Linked DNA regions of Homo sapiens: region 1 is linked to region 2. The links come from fine-mapping of genetic effects on gene expression. A gene starts in region 2. The other region holds a variant in brackets. All regions are shown on one strand. Distances are from middle to middle.

The links. PIP is the estimated chance that this variant, and not a neighbour inherited with it, causes the effect.
Region 1: its variant is fine-mapped to the expression of HSPB7 in lymphoblastoid cells (GEUVADIS, PIP 0.93).

Annotation. Positions count from the first base shown.
Region 1 is chr1:15,988,803-16,002,345 of GRCh38, forward strand. It overlaps the pseudogene TBC1D3P6. Among named protein-coding and RNA genes, the nearest start is that of SRARP, 8.7 kb to the right of the region's middle. RefSeq lists an enhancer at 5,094-5,934 and a silencer at 5,841-5,990. The variant T/TGTGAGGACTAA (reference allele first, on the strand shown) is at 8,268.
Region 2 is chr1:16,011,794-16,027,876 of GRCh38, forward strand. It overlaps HSPB7 (heat shock protein family B (small) member 7), which reads right to left and starts at 6,250. Exons shown (of 3, transcript NM_014424.5): 1 at 5,972-6,250; 2 at 5,281-5,414; 3 at 2,236-3,966. The coding sequence starts at 6,170. The coding sequence ends at 3,787. CLCNKA (chloride voltage-gated channel Ka) reads left to right here and starts at 10,243. Exons shown (of 20, transcript NM_004070.4): 1 at 10,243-10,270; 2 at 10,820-10,926; 3 at 12,007-12,135; 4 at 12,970-13,098; 5 at 14,315-14,454; 6 at 14,743-14,820; 7 at 14,904-14,982; 8 at 15,517-15,642; 9 at 16,028-16,083. The coding sequence starts at 10,827. RefSeq lists silencers at 1,096-1,305, 1,456-1,715 and enhancers at 5,052-5,798, 5,799-6,543, 14,249-15,157.

The DNA.
Region 1 (13,543 bases), 24 kb before region 2:
AAAAAAAAAAAAAGATTTTATTCTCCAGGAGAAGGGGTTCTTGGGGGCTATAAGCAGCAGGCAGAAGACTTTATTGCATGTGTGGTTAGGTGATAGCAACCTAAGTTTGCATTGGGAACTGGCATCAAGAGTGACCCGAACTCCTACTCATGAACCTCTCTCTCCCTGTCTCTCTCTTTGCCTTTTGTGTCTCTCTCTCCCTCGTCCTCTCAGCCTCCTCTGTCTCTGTCCCCATCTCTCTTCCTCTCTCTCGATCTCACTCCCTTCTTCCCATCTCTCTTTCTCTCTCCTTCTTCTCCACTTCTCTCTCCCTCCTTTTCTCCCTCCCTGCCACTGTTCAGGCTTCTGGGCCCCCCTGGACAGGTGCACACAGGACTCCTAGACCACCTTTCAGGACACATGCACAGGGCTGCAGGACCTTGGTCCCCCACCTCCCTGTGCCCTCAAGGTCAGGGGTGTGGGGTGTGCCTGGGCTTTCCTGGGCGGGTGCCCCACGCTCCATGAAGTAGAAGTTGTAGGTCACCATTGGCTCGAGTGGTGCACCCACCGGGCTGCTGGCTTCCTCCTTGTGATCTGCTGAGGCCAAAGCAGAGGACACCTTCCCAGGCCCGACCCTGCGCCAGGGTGGGGTAGGGGTGGGTTTGGAGGTCAGCATGGGGATGGGAGCAGTCACTGCAAACGGGTCCCTGGCTGGCTTCCTGCCCTGCACTATGCCATGCAAGGCCTCCTCTCCCGCCCTTCCCCCTACCCCACCGCCTCCACCTCTAGAAAGCCCCAGGCACAGGCTCCATAAGTCTCTGTGGATCCAGGAACTAAGGGCATCCACTGGGCTCCAAAGCTTGGCAGTGTCGCACACAGGACAAGTGCTCTCAGGAGACATTTTGGACAAATTGCTGAAATGCCTGATGGACATGGCTCTTGTCACAAAATGAATTTGCATCCTGAGGAAGCCTCTTCTTCAAAGGAAGTTTCCCCAGTCACCTCTGCCCTCTCCGATGACATGAATCGTCCCAGGTGACCTCAGCCCTCCCAGGTGATGTCTTTCCACCATAACTCTGGCTCTCTCAGGAGGTAGACTACTGCAGGGACCTGAGCCACGTCGCCGCCTTGTTCCTCCTTTATCTGCCTGAGGAGGACATATTCTGGGCACTGGCCCAGATGCTGGCTGGTGAGAGGCACTCCCTGCAGGGTGGGTGGACAGCTGCCCCCAGGGCCTCATGCAGCCAGACCCGGGGACGGCCACCCTGGGCAGGTGATCTCAACTTTCCGTGAAGGCACCTTCCTTGTGTTGCCAGCTTGTTTGGAGCCTTTAGGATGTCTCTGTTGAGGGTCCTGGGGCTGAACCGGGACCCCCAGATCCTGAGTCAGATGCCTCTCACCCCCATCAGCAGAGGGCATCTCATCATCCCCGTGGCCACCCTCTGTGTCCTGGAGCAACGCCCTCTGGCTCTGAATGCTGTACAGTTGACTCTCCCCTCCCTGAGGGTCCTGCCCTCCAGCTGCCCTTGGTACCCACAGATGGGCCGAAAAAGCCCTGATGGCAACATCTCCCCATCCCGTGTCCCCTGGCCCGACCCCACTTCTAGGAGACCACCATGAAGCCCAGCACCCGCCCTCTGTCGTGGCCTCAAAGTCAGGCTTGCCCTCCCAGCACCCTGGCCCAGGAGGCCTCCAGGAGCACCTCCAGCCAGGCTCCAGGGGATATTCCCACCCCTCCTCCCCAGGGCCAAGGCCGCATGGTGGGGTCCCCAGATGAGAGGGTGGGAGACCTCAGGGTTCAGGGGCCTCTGCAGCTGTCCAGCTCTTCCAGCTGATGGTCCCACATCTTGGGAGCAGGCTGATTTCATGATGGGCTGGGGGCTTCTCAGGATTCCACAGCCCAAATAGCGCAAGGGTCCAGGGCCTCCAAGACCACCAGGAGCATGTGGCACCCAGGCCATACCCCAAGACCATGAGGCACGCAGTGAGTTTATGGTCCCCCCAGCTCTTCCCCAGTGGCCCTGCATCCTGTGGGGCCGGAGGAGCCAGGGGCTGCCAGACCCTCATGGGGCTGGTGAGAGGGTGAGTTCTAGCCAGGGCCTGACCTGGGACGTGGGGTTCTCCATGGATTTGGAGTTGGGTTTCCTTTCCTGCCCTGGAGGAGACAGAGGCACAGGGACTGGGGCCAGTTCCCACAGAGCAGGGCTAAGGACAGTGTGTCCACCAGGAGTGCAGGGAGGGGAAGGTGTAAGGAGCCCTGGACACCGCCCAGTGTTCTGCACTTGGGGAAGGGTCTTCAGAGGGCCCTGGAAGAGGGAGGTTTTTAGGGCAGCCCAGAGGGACCTGAGCACCTCTGTTCCTCCCATCAGGACAAGGAAGGGCTATGCATTCAGGGTTCCTCATTAGGTTGGTTGCTTTGGAGCTTGATCAATGGGGTAAGGAGGCACAGGGAGACCCTGGCTCAGGGACCCTCCTTGCCCTACAGGGCCCTGCTCTTCGCCCAGGGGTCCGGTTCACCCCCAGCACATAGGAGGCACAGGCAGATATCTGCAGGACACACAAGCAAAGCCCTCTGCCCAAGAGGGGTCATCCCACGGCAGAGGCTGGGACTCAGGCCCAGCCTCATGGGCAGACTGGGCCAGGACCCACTTGGGAGGGCTCAAGGAAGCCTCAAGTCCTGGGGAAGCCCCTCTCTCCAGAAGCCACATCCCCACTGAAATGAGTGCTCCCCCATGAGGAGCTGCAAGACCTTGTCTGACCCAGCCTCCTGAAGGGGTCTGATGACCCTCATGGGAAGGGTCAGTGACTGGGGGACTGAAGCCCCAGTGGGCCCGGCTCGAGCCACCAGCCCCCAGCCTGGAAGGGCCAGGTCCTCCCACACCTGCTGTCCCCACAGATCTCTCTCGGGCTCACCCTGAGCCTTTGGGACGTGTATTTGCTAGAAGGGGAACAGGTGTTGACGCCAATGGCACGCACTGCCTTTAAGGTTCAGAGGAGTAAGTCCACGTGTGCCCAATGGGGACTGGGGAGCACAGGGGTCAGACCCTGACTGGCCCGGTGGCAGCTTCCTCACACTGTCCCCATGATCCTCTTCTCTGGCCCAGAGGGAGGTCTGGCTGGGTAGGCTGGGCAGGGAACAGTGACATACCCCCTCCTGTGGGAGCCCATCCCCTACATGACCCAGATGAAAGTCAGGAGTGTGGTGAGCACTTCCCTGCTCAGGCTGCCCCCTAGCCACAGCCTCCTGTGCACATCTGGACCCCTGGGGTGGCCACAAAGGGATCCGGCACTCCCCAGTGGGAGATGCTGAGGTAGTAACGGGGTATGGGCTCTGACCCCTCCCAGGGAACACTCCTAGCCTGATGCCTACCCTGTCCCTAGAGCACCTCGTGAAGATATCCAGGTGTGGCCGTGGGCATGTTTTCAGGACCAGTTTTCCCATACCTGGGCCCTGGATGATGATGCAGTTCTCAGACACCCTTGGGCCTCTATGAGGAAACAAGGAAGCCTGGGGACCTGCCACCCCCAGGTGGCCTGCAGCACCAGGTACCCTCCCGAGTCACCCCCTGGGGCAGTCAGTAGTTGGGGAGTGCCCAGGACCTCCAACACTACTACTTGGGCCTTCCTCTTCGCCTTTTCTTCCTCCTCTTCCTCCGGACTCTAAGAAAGTACAATAGGCCCCCAGGTCCTCAGGGCAGGTGGTCAGTTTGTGTGTACCGGACGTGCTGTGCAAGCAGGAGGGGGATGTGCGCAAGACTCTCCAACAAGCCCCCTCCCACTTTCCACCATGTCCCACTCTCCCCTTCAAAGGGCCCTCAGGGTCATTGGAGGAACCAGATCCATCTATGGGACTCCCCACCCCTCCCTGCGAGCACTGACAGCCTCAGAGAGCAGCAGAGGCTCCTCACTCCTGAACACCCCTCCAAGGGTGCCAGGACAACAAGCCTTGAGCCAGAGAGACAAGGGAATCTATGTCCCTGATCCCCGACCAGGGCGTTTAGTGGGTGGGCACAGGGGGGACCCCTGGCCCAGAGCCAGAGCCAAGAGTTCAGCCAGGTGTGGGAACGGTCAGTCCTGGCATGGACTGGGCAGCCCAGGAGGGCAGAGGGGGCTCTGTATCTGGGCTCTCTCACCCACCGTGGAAACAGGTCTCCATGTGAGGTGGCGAGGGGACTGGGTGACAGCCAAGGCCCCTCCCACCTGAGTTCTGACTGGAGGCTGTATCCCAGGCTCAACAGTCCTGGGATGACGGCATGGGGCAGGAAGCCCCCAGCCAGCCTGAACTCTGGGGGAGGGCAGTCCCAGGAGCCACCTGCTGCACCCCGACAGCTTCCCACCACAGGAGGCACAGACCCCTCCGTCTGCGATCAGCAGCCTGCAGGTGTGTCCTCAGTGTCAGACCACAGGGGCTACACAGAGACCCTGAGGACTCCAGAGACCCAGGCAGGTGGAGCCCGGCCAAGAAAGGACTGCGTGGGCTCACTGGAGATGCTGACCACGTCTGTTTCTTTCAGCCAAACCTGAGCAAGGGTCCTTGGCACCCAGGCCTGGGCTGGCTTCACCTGGCAGGAAGACCCTCTGGCAGGGGGACAGGCAGGCCCCTCCTGGCCCAACAACTCGGTTCCAGTGGCCCATTTGGCCAGCTTCCCCGCCATGGGTGGCCCGTTTGGTCAGCTTCCCCTCCATGGGTGCCTCGTCCTTTCATACCCTGTCCTGATGGGACTATCTGTGAGGCCAAGGCCCAGTGGCACGAGGGGGCTTCCATGGAACCTAGGGCAGCAGGCCATTCTCTGGGGGCACCGGGGACTGAGGGTGTGCCCAGCCTGGCCCTGGCTCAGGGGGAACCTCAGGTTTCCTGGAGGTTCCTCCAGTGGAACTCCATGCCACGGCTCCATCCCTATGAACCTGGATGTGGGGGGCCCTCGTTGCCCCCCGTTATGATTTTGAACAGAGCTGCTGGGTCCAAGTCCCTTCCAAATGTGTCCTGGACAGCCCCAGGACCATGGGACAGCCTAGCCCAGGAAGCCCATGGGGACCCCGAAACCAGGCCCTGCCCAGGCCCATCAGGACTAAAAGGGAGGTCGGGAGATACCCCGACTGCAGCGTGGCACCTGTGTCTGGCCCGCTCGGTGGTCAGTGACTGGCAAGTCTGGAAGGGGTCAGGGTGGCACCCCGCAAGCTGCACCACAGCCCCAGACACCTCGGAAAATCCCGTTCAATGGGGAAGCCAGTCCCATCAAGGCCACGAGAGAGAAAGGTGAGCATGGCATCCCCGCAGCCCCGGCCAGCCAGCAGCATGCCTGGGGCCTCTGTCCCAACCTGTGGGACAGTGTCCCCCTCCCAAGGCACAATTCCCAAGCCAAGAGGGGTCTGGACTAGACCCCAGCCCTGGGAAGTGAGGGGCACCAGGGGTGTGGTGGGCTCCCAGCTGCAGTGAGCATGACCATGCAGGGGACCCTGGCACTGCGGAGCTCTGCACTGTCACAATTCACCTCGCAGAAGCTGGGTGAGATCCCGAAGCCTCGCAGCCACTGCTGGAGCCACAGCAGGCGCCCCCACCACGTGCCTTCCAGCTGCTGGTGCAGGCTTTCCTGACAGCAGGGCGCCCTGCAGCCCTCGCCTCAGCAGCTCAGACTTGGAAGGTATCTGTGGCTCAAGTTCCCAGTGCTCCCACCGAAGAGAATTACTACGGAGGATGCTCTGGGTCCTGAGTCGAGCAAAATGGCACGCCCTATGGATGCAGCCTGCTTCTTTCCCGGCCACCACGCCTGCTGGATGCGCCCACCGAGCAAGTGGTCTTGAGACGGTCATGGGGACGGAAGAGGTTCAGCATCCTGCACGGGCCCTTACCAAGGCTCACTAGGCTGACACCATGGCTGAGCGCCCTCTCTATTGACAAGAGACTTGCACCCAGTCCCTGGGATGGACCAGCTGGCCACCTGCTGGCAGGCTGGTCACACTGCGGAGGGGGCTGAGATTGGCTTTCACTGCACTGACCCATAATGTGGACATGGACCTGCTGGCCCTGCAGGGCACACAGCACTGCTTCCGACTAGGGGACCCCATTCACAGCTAGAGACATGCAGCAGTGTGTTCCCACCTCAGGGCCTTGGCTCTGCCACCTCTACTTGGAATGTTCTCAGTTCCCTCCAGGCTTCTAGAAGCATCTAGGCCAGGGCTCATGACTGGATAAACAACCGAATCCCCACAACCCAAACAAGCTTTTCATTCTCATTTTATTTGGTGTTAAACTTAAGAAAATGTATTAAGACATGACTTACATCCCTGGTAAGTGTGCAGCTCGAAAGACATTCACAGATGGAACACACCAGCCCCCAGATCACAAAGCCAACCATGGCCAGCCCCTCCAGCGCCCCCGGCCCCACAACCAGTGTCCTGACTTCCGTTGACACCATGAGCCTGTCTTTTGTACTTTACACTCATGGAAGGATAAACACTTTCACGTTTTAAAATAAATGTTTACTTTTGAAATGATTCTAGATACACAGAAAAATTGAAAAGACACTGTAGTGTACTCTACACCTTATACCCAGCTGCCCCTAGTAATGACATTTTGCATTACCATGGCACATTTGTCCAAACTAAGAAATGTGGGCTGGCTGTAGTGGCTCACACCTGTAATCCCAGCAATTTGAGAGGTTGAGGCAGGTTCACTTGAGCCCAGGAGTTTGAGACCAGCCTGCGCAACACAGGTAGGCCTTGCCTCTAGAGAAAAGTAAAAAAAAATAGCCAGGCATGATGGCGTGTGCCTATAGTCCCACCTAATCAGGAGGCTGAGGCAGGAGGATTGCTCGAGCCCAAGAGTTCCAGGAAGCAGTGAGCTATGATCGCACCACTGCACTCCAGCCTAGGTGACAGAATGAGAATTTATCTCTTTAAAAAAATTAATTTATCTTGGGTGCAATCCTGTTAACTAAATAATAATGTTAACTATTATCTAAAGTTATTAACGCAGTAATTATATTAACATAGTGAAATTTTTTCAGATTTCATCCTCTTTTGCCTAACTTCTTGTACCTGTCCTGGGATCCCACCTCAGACTCACCCTCTGCCTTTAGGTCACTTCTCCTTAGCTTCCTCCAGAGGCTACAGCCAAACACACACCTGGGCTGAATAGTAGAGCTGGTTGCTGCTGGGTTCCAAACCTCTGCAACATGTTACTGTACTAAGTACTATAGGCAATGGTAACATAATGGCGGCTATTTGTGGGCCGGGCATGGTGGCTCATGCCTGTAATCCCAGCACTTTGGGAGGCCGAGGCGGCTGGATCACCTGAGGTTAAGAGATTGAGACCAGCCTGGCCAACGCGGTGAAACCCCGTCTCTACTAAAAATACAAAAAATGGCTGCCCAGATATCTGCTGGGCATGGTGACGGGCACCTGTAATCCCAAATACTCAGGAGGCTGAGGCAGGAGAATCGCTTGAACCTGGGAGGCGGAGATTGCAGTGAGCTGAGATCGCATCATTGCACTCCAACCTGGGCAACAAGAGTGAAACTCTGTCTCAAACAAACAAGCAAACAAACAAAAACAATGGTGGCTATTTGTGTATTTAAACACAGAAAAGGATCATAAAAATACAGTATAAATGATAAAAAATGGTACACCTGGCCAAGTATGGTGGTTCATACCTACAATCCCAGCACTTTGGGAGGCCATGCTGGGAGGATCACTTGAGCCCAGGACTTCTAGACTAGTCTGGGCAATATAAAAAGACCCCATCTCTTTTGAGATATCAATTTTTAGAGATGGTGCACCTGTATAGGGCAGTTCCATTATAATCTTATGGGACCACCATCCTATGTGCATTCTGGCATGGACTGAAATATCATTATCTGACATGTGATTGCATAAGTAATCTAGAGATGATTTAAAGTCTACGGGAAGATGTACTTAGGCTATATGCAAATACTGCACCATTTTATATCAGGACTTGAACATCTGTGGATTTTGGTATTTGTGGAAGGTGGTGAAACTGATTCCCCTACACACACCGAGGGACAACTGTAAATCTTCCGGGCCCCATAGAAGGCTCAATTCCCTGCACCCCCACCCCCAGATAAGCATTCTAAAGTGTTTGTTCACTTTACCTGCTCATCCGTGAGCCAGAGGGTTCCATCAACAGCTTGGGCTGTCTCAGAGAGACCTGGATTCAATCCCATTCAGCCACTTAGTGTGTCACTTTGGACAAACCATGTAACTTCTCTGAGCCTCAGTGTCCTCATCTGTAAACTGGGTTGATCATGGTCCTTACCTCACAGGGCCAC[T/TGTGAGGACTAA]GTGAGATGAAAGCTGACACCGCGAGTGACACCACTTCTCTCTCCCTCAGACTCAACAGGAAGATGCCTTTGCTGCCCAATGCGAAGGTTATGGGGAGGACGCGAGGCCCCAAGGTTCCCCTGTCCCAGGAGCATAAACCCTGGATTTTTGCTTCCAGAAACAACCACCTCTAGGATGAGGATGGCTCTCAACTCCCCAAAGCCTGTGCTACCACCCCACAAAGGCAGCGTCTTCAGCAGTGGGGAAGGGGCTGCACTGCGCCAGCCTCACCCTGGCCACTGTCTGCCCTCATGAGTCAGAGCCCAGCTAGGTCCTCAAGCAGAGCAGTGCAGAGTCCGGCCCCAGTCCCAGGCTCCAGGCATCCCTGCCACCCCCACCTGCCCCCACCAGCTGCCTCCATCCCTTAGCCCCTGCTTCCCTCCTTCCCAGCTCAGGATGTCTTAGCTCCTTACATGTCCCCATCATCTGTCTCCTCAAGGGGAGTGCAGCACAAGGGCAGGGAACTCGGCCAGTCTATGGCTGAGTCTCCGGTGTCTGGGAGAGATTAGAAGCTCAACACATACTTGCCCAGTGTCTGTGTGCATTTCATCAAGCAGAAGACAGCTTTGGAAATGAGAAGAGACCCTCCTGAGGCGACAGTCCTTAGCTGCCATTTCTCAAGTATTCTTGGCGTGCCACGCACTAAGCTGGACCATGGACATGCGAGCTCTGGAACCCGTGAGGTGCTGTCACTCATGCACAGGTGGGTTGGCTCAGCCCTGGTGCAGTCACATAGCTCCCTGCTAGCTGAGCTGAAATTGGAACCCATTCAGTTTGGCTCTTGCACTGCACAATGGCTCCCCAGCTCCTCTGAGTGAGAACTAAAGCCTTGCAATGCCCTCAGGTCATTGAACCTGGGACTTCTCTTCCTGAGCTGCCTGCCGCTCTTCCCTGCTCACACCAGGTCAGATGCAGACCTCCCCTCTGGGCCTGAAGCATATCAATCATGCTCCTGCCTCAGGGCCTTTGCACAAGCCATTCCCACTGCCCGGAATGCTCCCTGCCCAGATATCTGCTTGGCTGACCCATCACCTCCTACAAACCTTGCTCAGATCTTGCCTCATCAATGAGGACAACCCTGGCCATGCGTCTAGAGGGCGTCCAGCACAGAGTATGTGCTCAATACACAGGTGAAGAAGGAAGAAGGAAGGGATGGAGAAGAGAGAGGTGAAGGAAGGGCAGAATGCCTATGGCCATTTTTATTCCAGTGATAACTAGTTGCAGTGAATACCTAAGGGCAATGCAGACAGGGCAGAAACAAAGTTCACAAAAGGCCAACATGAGCAGGGTGGAAAAATGCAGCTCTACTCATCTGTCCTGGTGCAGATTTGAAGACTCCAGATGTGTCACATCTGGGCAGTCCCTTCTCTGCCCCCTCCCCTCTGAGCTCTCCTTCTACCTCCAAGCCTGGCCCATCTTCTAGGGATCCAGGACAACACAGGAAACAGCTGTGCATCTCCCAGGACACTGGGAAAGACTGCCAGTGGGGAAGATGCTCAGTGGCCCTTAAAACTCATCTCGGTTTTGCTCCAACTGTGCAGCCCATCCACTCCTGTGAACAGGAAGAGCACTCAAATGAGAGCCCAGACACTAGACCCTATTCCTCTTGACATCTGAACATCTTCCCCATCCCCAGCATTTCCCAGGGTCCTGGGAGAGGGACAGCTGTCTCGTGGATTGTCCTTCTTCACCTGTGTATTGAGCACATACTCTGTGCTGGACGCCCTCTAGATGCATGGCCAAGAGACAAGAGCGACAAGAGCAAAACTCTGTCTCAAAGAAAAAAGAAAAAAAAATGTGGGCCAGGCACAGTGGCTCATACCTATAATCTCAGCACTTTGAGAGGTCGAGACGGGAGGATCACTTGAAGCCAAGAGTTCAAGGCAAGGTCTGAGCAAGGTTTGTAGGAGGTGATGGGTCAGCCAAGCAGCTATCTGGCCAGAGAGCATTCCGGGCAGCGGGAATGGCTCGTGCAAAGGCCCTGAGGCAGGAGCGTGATCGGTACGCTTGAGACCCAGAGAAGAAGTTTGCATCCAGCCTGGTGTGAGCAGGGGAGAGCAGCAGGCAGTTCAGGGAGAGAAGTCCCAGCTTCAAAGGCCTGCGGCTGCTGCAAAGCTCTAGCTATTACTCAGAGCAGCTGGGGAGCCAGCAGAGGGTCCTGGGCAGAGAAGGGTTCAGCTGTGGCTCGGGCGTTAATAGGCCACATCACACCTTTGGGGAGAAGAGGGGGACCAGTTGGTTAGTCCAGGTAAGTGATGAAGGGTGCTCAAACTAGGTGGGAGAAGGCAGGTGGTGAGAAGTGTCACCTCAGGATCATTGTGAAGGTGCCACCTGCATGATTTGCTCGTGGACTGAATTTGCTCAGATGGGGGTGTGGAGGGAAAAGGAGAGTCCAGTCCACAGGCCCGATGAGCCACGCAGGAGTCAGACTGAATGGGTTTTATTTATTTATTTATTTATTTTTGAACAGAGTTTTGCTCTTGTTGCCCAGGCTGGAGTGCAATTGTGCGATCTTGGCTCACTGCAACCTGTGCCTCCCGGGTTCAAGTGATTCTCCTGCCTCAGCCTCCCGAGTAGCTGGGATTACAGGCATGTGCCACCACACCCGGCTAATTTTGTATTTTTAGTAGAGACGGGGTTTCTCCATGTTGGTCAGGCTGGTCTCGAACTCCTGACCTCAGGTGATCCACCTGGCTTGGCCTCCCAAAGTGTTGGGATTACAGGTATGAGCCACTGCGCCCTGCCCTGAATGGGTTTTAATTTCAGCTCAGCTAGCAGGGACCTATGTGACTGCACCAGGGCCAAGCCACTCAGTCTTTGTGAAGACTGGGTCTTGCCATGTTGCCCAGGCTGGCAAGGAACTTCTGACTTCAAGTGCTCCTCCTGCCTCGGCCTCCCAATGTGCTGGGACTGCAGGCATGAGCCACTATGTGCAGTTTAAAAAATAATTTTTGACTGGGTGCGATGGCTCATGCCTGTAATCCCAGCACTTTGGGAGGCAAAGGCAGACTAAGCACAAGGTCAGGAGTTCGAGACCAGCCTGACCAACATGGTGAAACCCTGTCTCTACTAAAAATAAACAAAAATTAGTCAGGCGTAGTGGCGTGCGCCCATAATCCCAGCTACTGAGGAGGCTGAGGCAGGAGAATCGCTTGAACCCAGGAGGCAGAGGTTGCAGTGAGCCGAGATTGCGCCACTGCACTCCAGCCTGGGTGAGAGAGTGTGACTCCATCTCAAAAAATAATAATAATAATAATAATTTTTAAGCCGGGGCAACATAGTGAGACCCTATCTCTACAAAAACTTTTAAAATTAGCTGGACATAGTTGCATGAACCTGTATTCCTAGCTACTTGGGAGGCTGAGGCAGGAGGATGGCTTGAGCTCAGGAGTTTGAGGCTCCAGTGAGCTATGGCTGTGCGCTGTGCACTGTGGCACGCACCACCAAGCCTGGCTAATTTTTGTATGTTTAGTAGAGATGGAGTTTCACCATGTTGCCCAGGCTCACCTAGAACTCCTGGGCTCAAGTGACCCACCTGCCTCGGCCTCCCAAAGTGCTGGGATTACAGGCGTGAACTACCGTGCCTGGCCAATAATAATTTGTAAATTTTAGAACAATTTCCAATGTATTGAAAAGCTGCAACGGTTGTACAGAGCTGTATACACCACATCCAATTTCCCCTATTGTCAACACGTTACATGACCATAGAATGTTTGTCGAAACTAAGAAAGCAACATCAGTACATTATTAGCGTCTAAACTCCAGGCTTTATTCAGATTTCACCAGTATTTCTGCAGTGCCCTTTTCAAGATGCAATTCAGGATACCTCCACTGTAGCAAGTTTTCATGTCTGTTTAGTCTCTTCTGGTCTGTGACAGTTTTTGTCTCCCATTGTTTTTCATGATCTTGAGAGTTTGGGGATTGTACATGTATTTTATGGAATGTTCCTCAGTTTGGATTTATCCAATGTTTTTCTCATATTTAGACTGGCGTTAGGAATTTTGGGGTAGGAGACCACAGACATAAAGTACCCTTCTTGTCCTATGGTATCAGAGGTGCCTGCTATCACGCGTGTCCAGTTACTTCTTTAAAAAAATTGTGGGGCCAGGCTCAGCGGCTTACGCCTGTAATTCCAGCACTTTGGGAGGTCAAGGCAGGAGTATCTCCTGAAGTCAGGAGTTGGAGACCAGCCTGGCCGGCATGGTGAAACTCCATCTCTACTAAACATACAAAAATTAGCTGGGCGTGGTGGCAGGCACCTGTAATCCCAGCTACTCGGGAGGCTGAGTCAGGAGAATCGCTTGAACCTGGGAATCGGAGGTTGCAGGTTGGAGTGAGCCGAGATTGCACCATTGCACTCCAGCCTGAGCGACAAGAGCAAAACTCCGTCTCAAAGAAAAAAAAAAACTGTAGGCCAGGCATGGTGGCTCACACCTATAATCTCAGCACTTTGAGAGGCCGAGATGGGAGGATTGCTTGAAGCCAAGAGTTCGAGACCAGCCTGGGCAGCACAGTGAGACCCTCCATCTCTACAAAAGGTTTTTTAAAAAATTAACCAGGTGAGGTGGCATGAGCCTGTAGTCCCAGCTAATCAGGAGGCTGAGGTGGGAGGATTGCATGAGGCCGGGAGGTCGAGGCTGCAATGAGCCATGACTGTGCCACTGTACTCCAGCCTGGGCAACAGTGAGACCCTGAAGGAAGCAAGACATTGTAGTAAGATATAAATAACCCAGTTACTTTTTAAGTCATGTAACACAGGCAACAAAATTTAGCTAAAATTTAATTTTTAAAATTTTCTTTGTTATTTGCATAGTGTATTAGTATTTTATTGATACTAAATAAATTATCAGAATTTAGGAGTTTAAAGCAACACAAATTTTTTCTCTATAGGTCAGAAGTTCAACGTGGGTCTCACTGCGTTAAAATCAAGGTGTTGGCAGGAAGGTTTCTTCTTGGAATTTCCAGGGAAGGATCCCTTTCTTTGCCTTTCGCAGCTTCTAGAGGCTACTGGCATACCTTGGCTCAGGACCCCGTCCTCCGCCTCCAAAGCCAGCAAGGGAGGGTTGAGTCCTCACTTCATATCTCTCTGGCCTTCTTCCGTTATCACATCTCTCTAATCCAGCCAGAAAAGGTTCTCCGATTTTTTTTTTTTTTTTTGAGATGGAGTCTCGCTCCCATCACACAGGCTGGAGTGCAGGGGTGCAATCTTGGCTCATTGCAACATCCACCTCCCAGG
Region 2 (16,083 bases):
GTGGCTCAAACATGGCTCACTGCAGCCTCAACCACCAGTGCTCAAGCAAGTCCTCCAGCCTCAACCCCCAAGTAGCTGGAACTACAGGCATGTGCTACCATACCCTGTTAATTTTTGCATTTTTTGTGGAGATGCAGTTTTGCCATGTTGTCCAGGCTGATTTCAAATAAATACTTTGTATTTATTGAGCTCAGGCAATCCACCCTCTTCAGCCTCCCAAAGTGCTGGGAATGCAGGAGTGAGCCACCACACCCGGTCATTTTTTATTTTATTTGAGTCAGGGTCTCACTGTGTCACCCAAGATAGAGTGCGGTGGTGCGATCACGGCTCGCTGAAGCCTCCATCTCCTGGACTCCAGCCATCCTCCCACTTCAGCCTCCCGACTAGCTGGGACCACAGGTGCACGTCACCATACCAGCTAATTTTCGTATTTTGTGTAGAGACGGGTTCTTGCCATGTTGCCCAGGCTGGTCTCTAAACCTTGGGCTCAAGAGATCCTCTCACCTCAGGCTCCTGAGCATGCGCTACTTCCATCTGACTTTGAAGACAGGGTTTGGGAAGGGGCTCTGAACATCTGCCTGGGCTCTTTGTGCTCTGGCTCTGGAGGGCTTCCTGGAGGAGGAGGCCTTTGGCCTCTGCTAGGCCTTCAAAGTGAGGAAACCTTCTAGGTCCTCTCTGCCCCTCCCAGTCTCTGGTACTACCTGACCTGGACTTTCTCACAGGTCTCCAGCCCCAGAGAGCTGCGTCTTTTCAATTTCCCCTACCTGCTGCCCAGGCCCACCCCCAAAGCTACAAGACGCGAGAGCCCCCTTTCCCTGTGGGGGCTGCCAGGGTGGGAGGAGGGAAGCTGCCTCAGCCCATTGGTGGTGGCGACTGATCCAGGTTGACCCAGCAGATGGCCTTCCAGAGCCATAGCAAGGATTCACATCCCAACCGTGCCACTTCCAGGCTGGGTGACCTTGGGCCAGTTGCCTGACCTCGCTGATCCTCCGTGTCCTTCTAGGCACACCGTTAATCATAGTACCTGCTTTGCAGGACTCTTGTGGGAATCAGCGGCGCGCCTGGCACACACTAGTTGCTCAATGAATGGGGCGGCTATAATTACTCTTCCGGGTGGGGGCGGGGCGCAGGGCCTGCAGCCAGGCCTATATTTAGCCTGGAAGGGGGTTGGGGGCGCTGGGAGACAAAGCGCCGCGGCCAGTCTGGGCGCCCAGGGGGCGGAGCCGGCGAAAGCCCCGCGGCCGACCCGCCCTCCCCTACCGCAGGGTCACCTTGGCCGGGCTGGCGGCCAAGGGCTCCTTCAGACCCGACGTGCCCCAGCGGCCCAGCGGCCGCTTGGTCCCCTGAGCAGTCCTCATCCTCGCAAACTGCTGTCTGGGGAGGGGGCTGCTGGGGGCTGGGGGTGGTTTTCGGCCCCACTGACCACTTGGGAAGCTGCCCCCTTTCCCAGCACCGGCCGGCCGAGGGAGGGCTCGCTGAGATCCGTACGCCAAGGTGAGCCTGACCCCGGGTGGGGGGCGTGGGAGGGGGAGCCAGGCTGGCTCCTCCCCCAACCTCGCGCCAATGAGTGTCGGGGCTGCAAATAGCCCAGTGGAATCAGTGAGTCATGGAGGCTGGAAATACCGCGCCCCCTCTGATCCCCTCCCCTCCTCCTGACCGCAGCCGGTGGAGCTGCACTGGGGAGCAAGCCTGGGGGTGTGAGGGGTGGGGGACCCCTCCGGAGAGCTCCCCTCCCCAGGCTCCCTGAACCAACCCGGACACCCCCGCCCCCAAGTTCCAGCTGGCTTTGCCTCTGGGGCTGTGTGACCCTGGGCCAGTCACTCAGACTCTCTGGGCCGCAGAATCCCCATTAGGTACAAGAAGGGCTTCAAGAGGGCAGGCGACCCGGTGCAGCCTGCCCACCTTTGCGTCCCTGCGCCTGGGACTGAAACAGTGCCCGCCACATAGCAGGACAGTAAATATCTCTGGAAGGAAAGAAATAATAAAAAGGGAAGGGCAGGCAGTTGGACGAGAAGGTGTTGCAAGGGTTTTCCAGAAACAATCCTGGGGTTCCTGCCCAGGGGGGTCTGGGGAGCCCACGGAGGAGGCCGAGGAACGCCCACATTTTGTGAGGTCTTCAGCTTTAACTTGAGCTACAACCCCCATCCCCAAATCTCAAAGAAGGTGTGTCTGTTTCTCTCAGGGTTTCCAGCCCTGCCCTAAGTTTGAGAACTCCAGGCAGGCGGCCTCCAGAAGTCTGTGAGACTGTCCTTTATTGTGTATACAGGTTCCAGCGTCAGGGCTCTCCCACGGCCCCCTCCCCAGTCCTCCCCCAAGGGGCCCAGAGTGGTGGGAGTGAGAGGCCACCCTAAGGCACACTGACCAGAGAGGCATGGAGGGAGGAGGCTGACTTGCCCTGGGGACCCCTGCTAACTGAGACCCACCCTTCCCCTCCACCCTGCTTCTGTATGTGGGAGACGAAACCAAGAGTCATTGGGGGCAGCAGGCATTTCCCAGGGTTAAGGCTGATGGAAGGTCCCTATCCCAGATGGGAGATGGGGGCTTTTCCTATGACTCCCCCCCATCCCCCAGCTGGAAGACGTGGGGAGGGTTGCATAGCCTTAGAGAGGTAGAATGAGGGGAAATACTCCTCAGTGCCCAGAGGTGGGGAGTTGAGAGCAGCAGTTGACACCCTGGGTTCAGATCTAACCTTCAGTGACAAAGCACAGCACTCAGTGGCTCGGGGATGTTTCCCCGTTAATGAAAATGGAGATTGTAAATCTGATTTGAGAAAGCTCTGAATTTGGCCTCAACCAATGGTAATGCTGAGTATTTGAAGGACAACGATAGGGGTGTGTGTGTTACACACACCGAGCCTATAGATTCATAGATTAAAGAGGGGGATGGATGGAGAGCTGACTGCCCGGAGGGGAAGGTGGCAAGAAGCTGGGGTCCAACCTCGAGGACCCAAAGCCCCATCCATGCCCTGGCTTCCATCTCTGTTAGGTGATCCTGTCTGCATGGGAGCAGCCCCAAGAACACAGGCCTGTGGGAGGGAGAAGGACCAGCCCCACCCCCAACCCCACTTGGCCTTGCCTGGAGGCCCCAGCAGGCGCAGGACGGCAGGAGTTTCATGCAGTTTATCACGAACCAGCTGTATTGGAAAAACCCCATCTATATACAGATGTGGCATGGCTCTGCCCTGGCACAGCCAGCTGGCTGGGGGCACGGGGTGGGCAGGCAGCCTGCTCGCTGGCGTGGGGCTTGGAGGCTGGTAGAGGGGAAGTTTACCGTCACGGCTGTCTCCTCTTGGCCTTGCTGAGCCCTCGGGCAATTAGTTCCACTTAGATAGGCACCCTTGCCTGTGACCTTCCCTCTGTCCCTCCCACTCCCCTTGGCCAAGAGGGTTCCAGGTCCCTGGTCCCCTTGCCCTGCAGAGACTTCATAGATCAGAGGGTTTGTCTGTCTGTCTGTCCTGCAGAGCTTGCCCATATGTCCTGCTGGTCCCATTCCCCTGACCCACAGTGGGTTCTTTAGATCTTCCTTCCCTGACCCCAGCCCCTGTACTCTGGATTAAGTGACGGAGGCCAAATCTGAAATCTGGGCATCATGTGTCAGGCCAGGGAGTCCCTGGCCTGCCCTGGATAGAGTGGAGGGCCCTAGTTTGGGAGGATGGTCCACCTGGGGTCTGGGGTGCGTGGGGGCTAGAACCTGGGCTGAGATGTCCTGGAGCTGTTGTAATGGGGTTAGCGAGGCTTTGCTGGCAGGCGTGGGGCGGGGGGACAGGGAAAGGGAAGGGAGAGGCACTCAGATTTTGATCTCCGTCCGGAAGGTCTGCTGGACGTGTTCTGTATGCGGGTGACGCCGTGCCCGGATAGTGAGGCTGCCGTCCTCCCGCAGAGCCGAGGTCACCGACGTCGGGTCCACGTCCTCCGGCAGCTGGCACTTGTGAGCGAAGGTGTTCATGACAGTGCCGTCAGCCGCCAGCTGGGGAAGGGGTGACCCGTCAGGCAGGCTGCCCCGACCCCTGTCCTGCTTGTGACAAGCCAGAGCCCTCTTCTCCCCATTCTAACCCCAGCCAGACCCCACATGCCGAGGGGCTCTGCCCTCAGGTGCCGAGGGGCTGCCCAGGGTGGTGATGGCCACAGGCCAAAGGCTCTGCAGGGACAGCGCAGGGGTGCTTCGCAGAGCTCCAGTAGCTCCAAGGAACAGGCCAGGGACATGGGGAAGAGGTGGGGCTTGGAGAGAGAGGAGGCTCCGTGGCAGTGGCTCCGAATCTGGGGCTCCTGGGGAACGTGGAGGTGACAGAGGAGAGCCGTGCCTTCCTGGATCCCCGGGCACATTGGGCATCTGCCCGCCAGGGCTGAGCGCCGGCCCCTCCCCCGCAACTCAGCCAGCACATAGTGTCCAGGGGAGTTTGGGGCGGCTGAGTCACTGTTGGGGGTGGCAGGGCTGGCACATGCTGCCTGTGGGTTTTGGTGCCCCCAGTCCATGGCATCCCTGGCAGGGACGCCCAGAAATCCACCCTTGAATGTGGAGGGGAAGAAGCCAGTCCTTGGGGGCTTAGGAGGAGGCTTGGGTCAGGTCCTCTCCTCTCTCCTGGCAGCCGTGGCTGTCCCTGGGCAACGCCCCTGTTCAGGCCTGGCCATACCCTCTCCAGGGTGGAGGCCCCAGTGCCTCCTAGAAGTTCGGACTCAGACACGCTAGAGACCCAGTGACCCTGAGACCTGTGGGCGGGCGCTGTGTGTGGTTTGGAGTGTGTGTGACCCGAAACTGCAGGGCCCCTGCCCAGCCTCGGGCCTAATTTAGGGGTCCCAAGATGGGGGATGGGTCTCCAGCTGTGGGAGGGAAGAGGGCTTGAGGTGGGTCACATGGAGAAACCCCTCCCCCCACTGCCCAGGTGAGTTCCCCACCTACCCGCATCCGCCCCCCTATAGCTACCAGAGGAGCTGTCCTCACTCTGCCATCACCATCTCACACCTGTCATCTCCCACCCTCAAGCCCCACCCCCTCAGGCTCCCTCTGCCCACATCCCTCCATCCCTCTCCCATTCCTCGGAGGCTCCCTCAGCTGCTCAGGCCCTGGAAGAAAGGATCTGGGAACCTCGGTGCAAAGAGAGGCAGTGAGGGGGCCCCATGGCCATGGGTTGCAGGGACAAGGCCTTCAGTTAGCCCTGGGGGAGTTTGGGTGGGGAAGGGACACTGGCCAGGGTCTGGGGTCCCAGGATGGTAAGGGGGAGTAGGAGACATTGGAGGCAGGAGCAGAATTTGGGATGCGGTGAGTAGGGGGTGGGGGGCTCACCTTCTCAGCCCGCACCTCGATGTGGTTGTTGGAGGTGGTGACAATGATGTCTTCAGGTGAGAAGTCTCTCACGTCCACCGCAAACTCATAGGCGTCTCCTAGGGTCTTGATGTTGCCTGCCCCACCGGGGCGGGCTGTGGGATGGGCTGCTGTGAGCGAGGCATGGAGCAGGCCTTGCATGCAGATCCGGGGGTTCTGGCTCCTTCTCTTGGGGCAAGGGGCGGCTCCCCCAGGCCCTACCTCCCCCCTAGCTGTTTCTCCCTAAGCTCCTCCTCATTCCTACAGCCCACCTTTTCTGGGGTGGGGGTGGGGCCTCACCCAGCACAGTGTGTGTGTATATGAGGCTAGGTCTGTAACAACCCCACCCCAGGCCTGGAGCCTGGGGGCTGCCCCCCACCGCTCACCCATCCAGCCCTCCAGGGCTCCAGCTGGGATTGGCTGTGGTTACAGAGCATGGGTGGCCATGGAACCATGTCCAACCCCCAGGGCCACAACTGTTCCTTAGAGGCCCACCTGTTTTCATGGCCACATCTGTCCCTGTGGCCACATCTGTCTTGGTGGCCACACATGGCTGCAGGCTGTGCAGCACCTGTTCCAGGCCGACCGGCAGCCACAGCGCCTTCGGTGGCGCCCTGGAGCAGACGTCCCCTCCCTGTGCACCTCCCCTCCCCTCAGGGCCCGGATCACTTGCCTGGGAAGGCCAGGGGCTCCGAGTGGGGCCGCATGAAGCTGCCAAAGTCATCGGAAAACATGCTCAGGGCCTTCTCCATGGGCGGGTCCTGGGCCGGGAGAGCACGGGAGGCCGAGGAGGAGGTGGAAGAGGAGGAGGAAGAGGAAGAGGAATGGAAACTTCTCTCCGCTCGGAAGGTGGAAGAGGTTCTGTGGCTCATCCACGGACGGCGCCGGGCCCTGCCCAGGCGGGCGAGGGCTGGACAGGAGAGGGTGTGGGCGCAGGCCTCTGGGCGAGCGTGCCAGGCTCCGACTGCGGCCGCTTTATAAGGCCGACTGTCCCTGGGCTTGGGGCCAGCCCCTTGTCTACTAGCTAAATTTAGGCCTCTCCATGGCCCAGAGGGGGCTGGAAATCTTCTCCCGTGCGCCGGCCCTGCTGACAGCCCGACACGCAGGCCGAGAGGGCTGAGCTCACAGCCTGACATTCCAGGCTGATCACAGCAGCCCCAGGGGCCTCCTCACCACTGCACAGGGCTGGATCCTGTCTCCTTGCCACTCGGACCTCGGTGCCTGCCCCAGAACCTTGCAAGTTTGGGGTTTATTGTGTGTTTTGTTTCCCCCGTCAGCCTGGGGGCTCCTGAGGACTGTGCCTCCCCTCCAGACTCTGGTTCTCCTCCACGGCTGTACCTCCTCCATCAGTGTGCAGGCTCCTTGGGGACAGGGTAGGTGGAAGCACCACCGCTCTGTGACGTCAGGAGCTCCTTCCCTCAAGGCAGACAACCTTCACAGCCCATCTCTAAGGAAAGGTTGAGCCCTGCCAGGGGGTGTAAAATGTGCAGCTGTCCCCTGCCAGCCCCCATGGGGACCTGGATTCTGTGCCTGCACTCCCTCTGACTCTCAGAACATTCAGCAGCCCCAAGAGGACAAAGTTGGCAGCTTTCTCCTTAAAGGTCTAGAAGGTTGTGTTCCCGGCAACTGTCTGCTCCATCTCTGTGTCAGAGGTGATGCCTGCGAGCGCCTTAGGTGGGATTTCAGTCAGAGGTAAAAGAGAATTCCGGAAGACAATTATTCTAGCCCTGAGTTCTAGAATGCCTTCTGGGCATGGGCTCCTGGCTGCAAGCTGTCCAGCACGGCCCCGTTTGATCCCCACACAGCTGGGAGGGTGGAGGGGCTCTTCCCATGTTACGGACGGGGAAGCGAAGCCTCTTGGAAAGGGCGGGGCTCGCAGTTGCGTAAGTGGCAGAGCTGGGATTCGAACCTAGATGTGTTGGACCCAAAGCCCTTCAGAGGCCGAGGTGGTTTGAACATGTGCCTATGGAGACAGGCTGGCCCGGAAGAGCCAGAGAAGCCCCTCCCTACCCACCTGCTTGCTCAGCAAAGCTGGGACTGACCTTGCCCTGGGCCAGGGTGGAGGCCATTCTGAGAGGCGGCCAGGCCCTCTGCTCTGCCCAGGTTGCAGTTAAGGGCCTCTGCTGTCCTCTCCAAATCCGTCCCTTCCGTCCCAGATCAGCTCCAATGCCTCCTCCCCCAGGGAGGCCTCTCTGACTGCTCCTGCTCACATGGGCCCACACCCAGTCCAGATGCCCCCAGCACTGACTGTCTTTGTCCTCCCACAGCACCTGGCAGTGTGACATAGTCTTCCTGTGTGCTGTGACTCTCTGCTGTGTCCCTTCTTCCCTATCCAACTGGCAGTTCCCACGGGGGCGAGGGTTCACCTGTCTCCCCATTAGATTGAAGGTTCTTGAAGACGGGCAGTTTCTCTTTTGTCTGAGCCCCCTACAACCCAGTCTGGAGCTTCATCCTGGAGAGCTCCTTCTACAGGGGTATTAGCGGTGCTGGTGGTATGTGGAGTGGAAGCAGAGCAGGGCACAGGGCACAGCGGCGGGCCAGGCTGTTGCCTGGAGCAACAGGGCCTGTTGCCTCTGGCAGAGTTTCCTGCCCGTGTCGGGGCCTGTGACACCCAGCCTGGCTGAGGGGTTTCTAGGGCAGCTGGGAAGCCACCAGCACTGAGGTGAGATGGAGAGAGGGTGGGGCGGGGTGGGGGGCCCAGAGCCTGCCGCTCGCCAGGGAAACAGGAGCCGGTGGCTAAATGCAGACACACTGTCATGGTGCTGAGGGCCTGAGTCACTGCCCCTGGATGTCAGATCCCGTTACCCACCCCCGCCCACCATTCCTCCTCCCCTTTTTCCCCCTTCCCGAGGCATCACCCACACAAATACTGGATCCTCTGGCTTCACTGACCCAGAGGGACCTCAAAAGGTCATCAAGGACATTCCCCTGCCTCTACCTTCAGATCACAGAGACAGAAGGAGCTACAAAGATGATGCAGTCCTTTGAATCCCAGTCACCCAGGAGAGCTTTTCACAAACACAGACCCTTTCCTTGGACCCCAGGATTTTGATTTGGGATCTGGGGAAGGGACCTCACATCTCTTCCCATCAGCTCCCCACACAGCCAGCTCATAGGCCAGTGATGAAGCCCTCATCACTCAGTAGGTATTCATTGAAACCTTGCTATAAATAGGTGCTGGGCACTGTTCTAGGCTCTGAAGGACTCAGAGATGAATAAGGCAGAGACAGGCCCCTGCTTCCAGGCTCACCTCATCATACAGAAGAGGAAACTGAGGCTCTAGTTGATGAAAGAGTTAGGGTCAGCAGAGCTGTGCTGGCTTCAAACCGGTCATCCTGCTGAGCCACCCTGGCTGCCCTCTTCTCAGCCTCCTGGTGCACACAGGGCTGGGGGGTGAGGGTAGATGTGGACGTGCAGTGCTGGCTGTGGGACAGTAGCCAGCAGCTGCCCCAGACCAGACACTGGAAATCGGGATGTTGACAGGGCAGCCAGTTCTGGTGCTGTGCAGAGTCAACAGGTCGGGGTGGCCAAGGTGAAGGTGGGCTCGAGTCCATACAGAGCGGCAACTCCCATCCCACCTCCCACAACACACATCTTTGATTTTGATTTGACTTGCCTGGCATCTAGGGGCAAAGGGTGGCCCAGGGTCCCAGATTTTAACAATCATCCAAGGGCTATCATAAGCTTCAGAGGGTGGCTTTGTCTGGGTGGGAGTGGAGGCAATTGTCCCCAACCTCTTGCCCAAAAGTGGCATCAGACACAACTCTTCTGTTCTGTGCCCAAACCATTGCCCTGGTTCAGCCTCAGGAGCTGGAGGAGCTTTGGGCAGGGGAAGAGCTGCACAGTGTGGGGCTGGGTTCAGCCTCTGCTGTGTGACCTTGGATGAGTGACTCACCTCTCTGACCATCTACAAAATGGCGAGGCTCTCCCCATTCACAGGGTGTGGGAAGGAGGACTTGAGCTGCAGATGTGACGCTCCTGACACGTCGCAGGCACACGGCAGGTGCTTGTTCCTCGCCATGTCCCCTCACACCTGTGCTGCCATCCTCTGTTGGGGTGGGACAAACTCTGTGGAATTACCCAGAAGTCCCCACCAGAGCCGCTGGCCCTTGGACGTGTGCTTTGAGAAGCATTTCCTGAGCCTGGAGGGTCTGGACACAGGATCAAGTCCGAGTTCCTGACCCCAATTCACTGCCTTGCCCCAGGTGTCGGCCTCCTCGCCAGCCCTGGACAAGATGGGTCATCAGGATGGGACCGTGTGGCACAGCCTGCGGGCTTTGGAGCCAGGCAAACCTGGGCTGGGAATCCTGGCTCTGCCTCGGCCTCCGTGATCTTAGACAGGCAGCCCCAGCTCCCTGAGACACCATTTCTCTACAACGGGATCACGCTGCCTGCCTCGTGGGATTTCCGTGGGCACTCAGGGTAATTAATCTGGGAGAAGGCTGACTCTCTACCTGACACACAGGGAGGCTGTGGTCATGCTGGCCCCACTCACCATTGCCCCCCTGCCTTCTCCTTCCCTTCCCAGCCTCCTCCCCTCTCCCTCTGTGCTTTTTCAAACCTTCCATGTCCAGCTCTGAGACCCCTGGACCCTGAGTCTCAGCCTTGGCAGATGACCCCTCTCTGTCCTGCTGTGTGCATGAGCTCCCCCTTCCCAGCCCTCGTCCAGCAGCACCCAGGAGCCTGAGTACAGCTGGGCACCACCCTCTGTGCAGCTGTGATGGGTGGGGAGGCTCCTGCTCCCCTTCTCTCTTGGCAGTTCTGCCCTGCACAGCTCTGGCCTCCACAGTTCTGGTTGGTTTGTCAAGGACGTTTTTAATCTCCATGGTAAACCCCGGCCGGCGGGGAAGGGGGGTGGCAGGGAGAGAGTGATGATTGGTAGAGCATATACCTGTCCAGGTGCACTGGAGCTGGGAGCAAAGGAGGCTCTGTGAGAGGAGGGCCAGTTCAGCCGCAGCAGGAGGACTGACAGGTGAGGGGTCTCTGGGCGTGGACTGGAGTATGAACCTGGAAGGGCCAGGCAGGCAGGGCATAGGGGATGGTAGGGGCAGTAGCCAGCACCTCACTTTGGCTTTGCAGAGGCCTTCTGGTCCTGGGGTTTTCCTGCCTCTGTGACCTGAGCTGTCGGGGAGAAAGGAGGGTGCTCCGAGATTGGCAGGGAGAGTCGGAGCCATCCATGGGACTCTGCAGTGAGAGAGTCACAGCCCTGGGCAGAGACTGCTCCCAGTAGTGGAAGCACCAAGCGACCCAGGAGGGTGGGAGCGGTGTCCACAGTCTGCTGCTGGACACAGGGGGACACCTAGGAATCCCACCCTCATCCCACAAAATGACACACACAGGCACACACCCTCAGTGACGGAACCTCAGGGATGAGGGCACACACAGACCTAGTGTGATAACACACACACACACGCACAATCCTTCCTCTTCATTTGGGTGGGGAGAGCACTGGAAGGGCCCAGAGGCAGCGCGAGGACGTGCAGCAGCTCACCCGGGTCCTTCCCTCCATCTGCTTCTCCAGGGGCCTGATGGAGGAGTTGGTGGGGCTGCGTGAGGGCTTCTCAGGGGACCCTGTGACTCTGCAGGAGCTGTGGGGCCCCTGTCCCCACATCCGCCGAGCCATCCAAGGTGAGAGCCAGGTCCTCTTCCCTACCCGCGGGGGACCACTCAGGACATCATTCCTGCCTGGCTCCCACCCCACCTCTCTGCCCAGGAACCACCCTCCTGTCATTTGTCCAGGACATGACTGCCCAAAGTCTCCTGGGTGGCAGGGAGGGAAGGGGTCTGTCTGTCCAGCTGTCTGTGGGTCAGATGGGCCAGGCATCTGCCCTCTGCCTTTCAGGAGATACAGCCCAAGGCCTGGTCACTGTGCCTATCTTCCACCCAGGCCTCTCCCTCACCTACCTGTGCCAATGAGGGGACGTGGGGGTTAGCTGCTGGGACAGCTGGGGGCACAGCAAGGGGCTGGGGCAGCCTGCACTTGGCACCCTTCCTTGGAGCCCCATGTGCCTTGTTCACTTTGAGACCTGACTGTCCCCTCAGCTACGGGGCAGAGCAAGTAGGGACCACAGAAGGAGACTAAGTGCAGTGCCAGTGGCTGGTGCCCACAGCCAGTGAGGGCCAGCTCCCAGGCTGGGCTGCAGCCAGCGGGCCAGGGGCATTGCTGGGGACCCAGAGGATACCTGGCGCCACAGGCCCTGGGACACGCAGAAGTCTGCTAGACCCTGGTGCTCTCTAAGCTATGGATCCTGCAGGGATACAGGTGAAAGCTATAGCTGCCAGCCCCCTTCACACTCCCTGTCCCCCAGGAACCTCCCAGTACAGGCACGGGTGGGGAGAGTGGACAGGTCAAAGGCCTTCTGGCAGGGGCAGCAGTCCTGGCATCCACTGTGCCACCACTGTCACCTGCCACAAATCCTGCCCAGCCCCCAGTGTGAGGCAAGCCAGCAGAGGGTAGCTCCAGGCTCACTCAGTGGTGGCCTGAGGTTCTGTTCAGGGCTCCTCCATCCTGACACAGCCATCTGCCAGTCCCAGTGCGAGGAACGTGGACAACTTGCATTCCTCTCTGACTCAGGCGGGGCCCCCTCAGGACTACCCCAGACTCAACTACCAGGGTCCTCCCTGCCTGGAGCCAAGCAGACCTCCAGGGAAGGGGCTGTCTGTGCCCCTTGCCCCAACATAAGCTGGGACTCCGATACCCTGCCCCAGGTGGCCTGGAGTGGCTAAAGCAGAAGGTGTTCCGCCTGGGAGAAGACTGGTACTTCCTGATGACCCTCGGGGTGCTCATGGCCCTGGTCAGCTATGCCATGAACTTTGCCATCGGGTGTGTGGTCCGAGGTAACTCTTCCCTGGCAGGTGCTGCTCTGGGCCAAGGGATTCTAGGCACGCTCTGGGGATACCAGATGGGCCACCAAGTGCAGCGGTGCAGGGACGGACCTGGGTGCGGGGAGGGCTCTGGCTCTACTCCTGATTTGCTCTGTGATCCTGGGCAGGCTCCTGCCCCTCTCTGGGCCTCAGTCTCCTCAGCCGCACAAGGAAGAGAGACCTGAATATTCCCAAGAGCCCTTCCTCCTCTGAGCTCTCTGGCTCCTCTTCCAGCCACCCCGTTCCTTCTCCTTCCCTCCTCCGTGCCTTGGGGCAGGAGTGGGGACACTTGCCTAGATCACCAAACTTGGAGTCTTCCCCCTGCTCCCTCAGCAGCCTGCCTCCACCCTGAGGCCTCCCTGGAAGAGGGGGTGTGGGCAGGAAGGGTCTAAGACACTTTCTCTGGAGACCCTCAGCTGCCAGAAGCAGCACCTACTATGGTGTTACGGTGTTTGGTGCTTCACACCTGTGTCATGTAGTTCTCAGTGGCCCTTTAGTCTTTAATGTCTTTAGTCTTCAATGAGCCTGTGAGGAAGAGCCAATCACTAGCCCACTTGGCAGATGGGGAAACTGAGGCTCAGAGAGGCTGAGTGGCTTGCCCAAGGTCACTCAGCTAGGCAGTGGTAAACCTGGGATATGGACCCAGGGTCGTACTCCTGCCTTTTCTTGGGGGTCTGCACCTCACTCTGTGGCCTGGTCCTCCCCTCTTCGTGACTCCATTTCCTGGTCAGTAAGTGGGCACCACAGTGTCTGGCCCTGAGGGCTGCAGAGGCTGTGGGTGCCTCCCTGATACGCGGCTGTCCCCAGCACACCAGTGGCTGTACAGGGAGATTGGGGACAGCCACCTGCTCCGGTATCTTTCCTGGACTGTGTACCCTGTGGCCCTCGTCTCTTTCTCCTCAGGCTTCTCCCAGAGCATCACGCCCTCCTCTGGAGGTGAGTCCACGGTCGCCATGCCAGTCCCCAGTGCCAAAACCTTCTCAGATCCCAGGGGGCTTCTGATGGGGGGAATCGGGAAGCTGCAGCCTCATTTCTCAAGCCCAGAAGAGTTATGTGGCTTGCCTGAAGGCACACAGCAAGAAGGCCAGATCTTGACTCTTGGGTCACTGCTGGCCCTACTCGCTTTCCAAGGGCTCCTTGGAAGGAGATTGCCCTGTGGGGCCTGTGCTGGTGCCAGGAAGGGGCCCATGGAGGAGGTGCCGCTCCCTCAGGCCACTCAGCCCTTCCTCCAGCTCCAGGCCAGCAGAGGGGAGCTCCAGGCTCACTCAGTGGTGGCCTGAGGTTCTGTTCAGAGCTCCCCCATCCTGACACAGCCATCTGCCAGTCCCAGTGGGAGGAACGTGGACAACTCGCATTCCTCTCTGACTCTAGCATCCAAATCTGCAAAATGAGTTTATGCATCCTAACCTCTGAGGGTTCTGCGTGATCATAATAGGACTAGGTGCAGTGACTCAGTCTATAATCCCAGCACTTTGGGAGGTGGGTGGATCACTTGATCCCAGGTGTTCAAGAGCAGCTTGGACAACATGGTGAAACCCCATCTCTACAAAAAATAAAAAACAACCACCACAACAAAAAGTTAGCCAGGTGTGGTGGTGCCTGCCTGTAGTCCCAGCTACTTGGAAGGCTGAGGTGGGAGGATCACTTTTGAGCCTGAGGAAGTCGGGGTTATAATGAGCCGAGATCGAACCACTGCATTCCAGCCTGGACAATAGGGTGATACCCTGTCTCAAAGGAAAAAAAAAAATCATAATGTGAAAACACCGTGCGGGTAGAGTTATGAGAGTTTTTTTTGTTTGTTTGTTCGTTTGTTTTTGAGATGGAGTTTCACTCTTGTTGCCCAAGGTGGAGTGCAATGGCACAATCTTGGCTCACTGCAACCTCTGCCTCCCAGGTTCAAGCAATTCTCCTGCCTCAGCCTCCCAAGTAGCTGGGACTGCAGGCACCCGCCACCATGCCCGGCTAATTTTTTGTATCTTTAGTAGAGATGGGGTTTCACCATGTTGGCAAGGCTGGTCTCGAACTCCTGACCTCGCGATCCGCCTGCCTCGGCCTCCCAAAGTGCTGGGATTACAGGCGTGAGCCACTGCGCCTGGCAGAGAGTTTTAATCTAGAGATTGTCCCCTGCTTGTTCCTGTCCTGTCTGGCTAAGGTTCTGGAATCCCGGAGCTGAAGACCATGTTGGCGGGTGTGATCTTGGAGGACTACCTGGATATCAAGAACTTTGGGGCCAAGGTGGTGGGCCTCTCCTGCACCCTGGCCACCGGCAGCACCCTGTTCCTGGGCAAAGTGGTATGGTCAGGTGTGAGGGCACCCCAGCCACCCCGCCCACCCTACCCTGCCCCAGCTCTCCCCCATACCCCACCAAAGCTGGGTCAGAGCAGACTCAGGCCAGTGCCTGCCTTCAGGGAGCTCAGTCTTAGGGGAAGAGCCAGGCCAGGTCCCCAGTGTGACAAAAGCTACCTGAGGACAGCCCTGGGGGTTGGGGAGATGGAGGAGGGGGTGTGGTGGGGAAGCCGTGCTGCCTCGGGGTGAGACTGTCTCTGCTGCCCTCACCTGGGCCCACCCTTCCCTCTGCAGGGCCCTTTCGTGCACCTGTCTGTAATGATCGCTGCCTACCTGGGCCGTGTGCGCACCACGACCATCGGGGAGCCTGAGGTTAGGGACTCGGGGGCTTCCTTGGAGAAATGGGAGTGGGGAGGGAGGGGGCTGACTCTGAGCCCTGGACTCGGATCCCCCAGAACAAGAGCAAGCAAAACGAAATGCTGGTGGCAGCGGCGGCAGTGGGCGTGGCCACAGTCTTTGCAGCTCCCTTCAGCGGTGAGACCCCCCTCATGCCCCGCCCCCTGGGTCCCTCAAGCTCCTCCCCTCACACCCTGGGCTCCCTCGGCCCAGCTGAGAGCCTGGAGGAGGGGATGGGGCTCATTCTTGTTCTCACTTCAGCCCCGCTTTGGGTATAGCCACCCCCCGGGGGCGGCGGGGCGGGGCGGGTGGTTGGGGGCGTGGTTGGGCGGTGCTGAGAGGCTTCAGGATAACATTACACAGACTTGGGTTTGAAATCCACTGGCCCCTTGGCCTCTCTGAGCGCAGCTTCCTCCTCTGTAAAATGGGGATCAAACCGTTCCCACCCGATAGGGAGAGGGCGCACACCTGCATTCCAGGCTGGATGGATCCCTGGGCAGCGGGGTCCTCCCCGCCCAGGGCGCAAGCCCTGCCCTCCCCTTCTGTCTGTCCCTGTCCGGGCTGTAGGACAGCAGGACAGATGGCTCAGGGAGGAGGCGAGATGGGGGAGGGGGCCCTACAGCCACAGGTGGGTGGGGGTGGGGGCCCACCTGACATCAGTGTCGCCCCCAGGCGTCCTGTTCAGCATCGAGGTCATGTCTTCCCACTTCTCTGTCCGGGATTACTGGAGGGGCTTCTTTGCGGCCACCTGCGGGGCCTTCATATTCCGGCTCCTGGCAGTCTTCAACAGCGAGCAGGGTGAGCCCCCTGGGCTGCCTGACCCTGGCCCTGCCTGGGGGCCGGGGCGAGGGAGACCTCCCTTCTCCTCTGTGTACATCTCTTGCTCTTCCCTTCCCTCTCTCTCCCTCTTTTCCCTCCTCCGTGTTCCCACCTCCTTCAGGGAGGATGGAAGGGGCTGACCTGTGTTGAGCCCCTGACCTGTGTTGAGGGGCAAGGGGCCCTGAGGGTAGAAGGGATGAGGCTGGGCAGGGAGGCAAGAGCCTGGTTGTGGGGGCCTGGAATGCCAGGACACAGATTCCGAGTCAGGACCTGGCACCCCCTCCACCCTGGGCTGTTAGTCTGGGACTTGAGTTTGGGTCGGGTGGGAGCGCCATCTTGGCTCCCCACTGCCCTCCTTCCCCAGAGACCATCACCTCCCTCTACAAGACCAGTTTCCGGGTGGACGTTCCCTTCGACCTG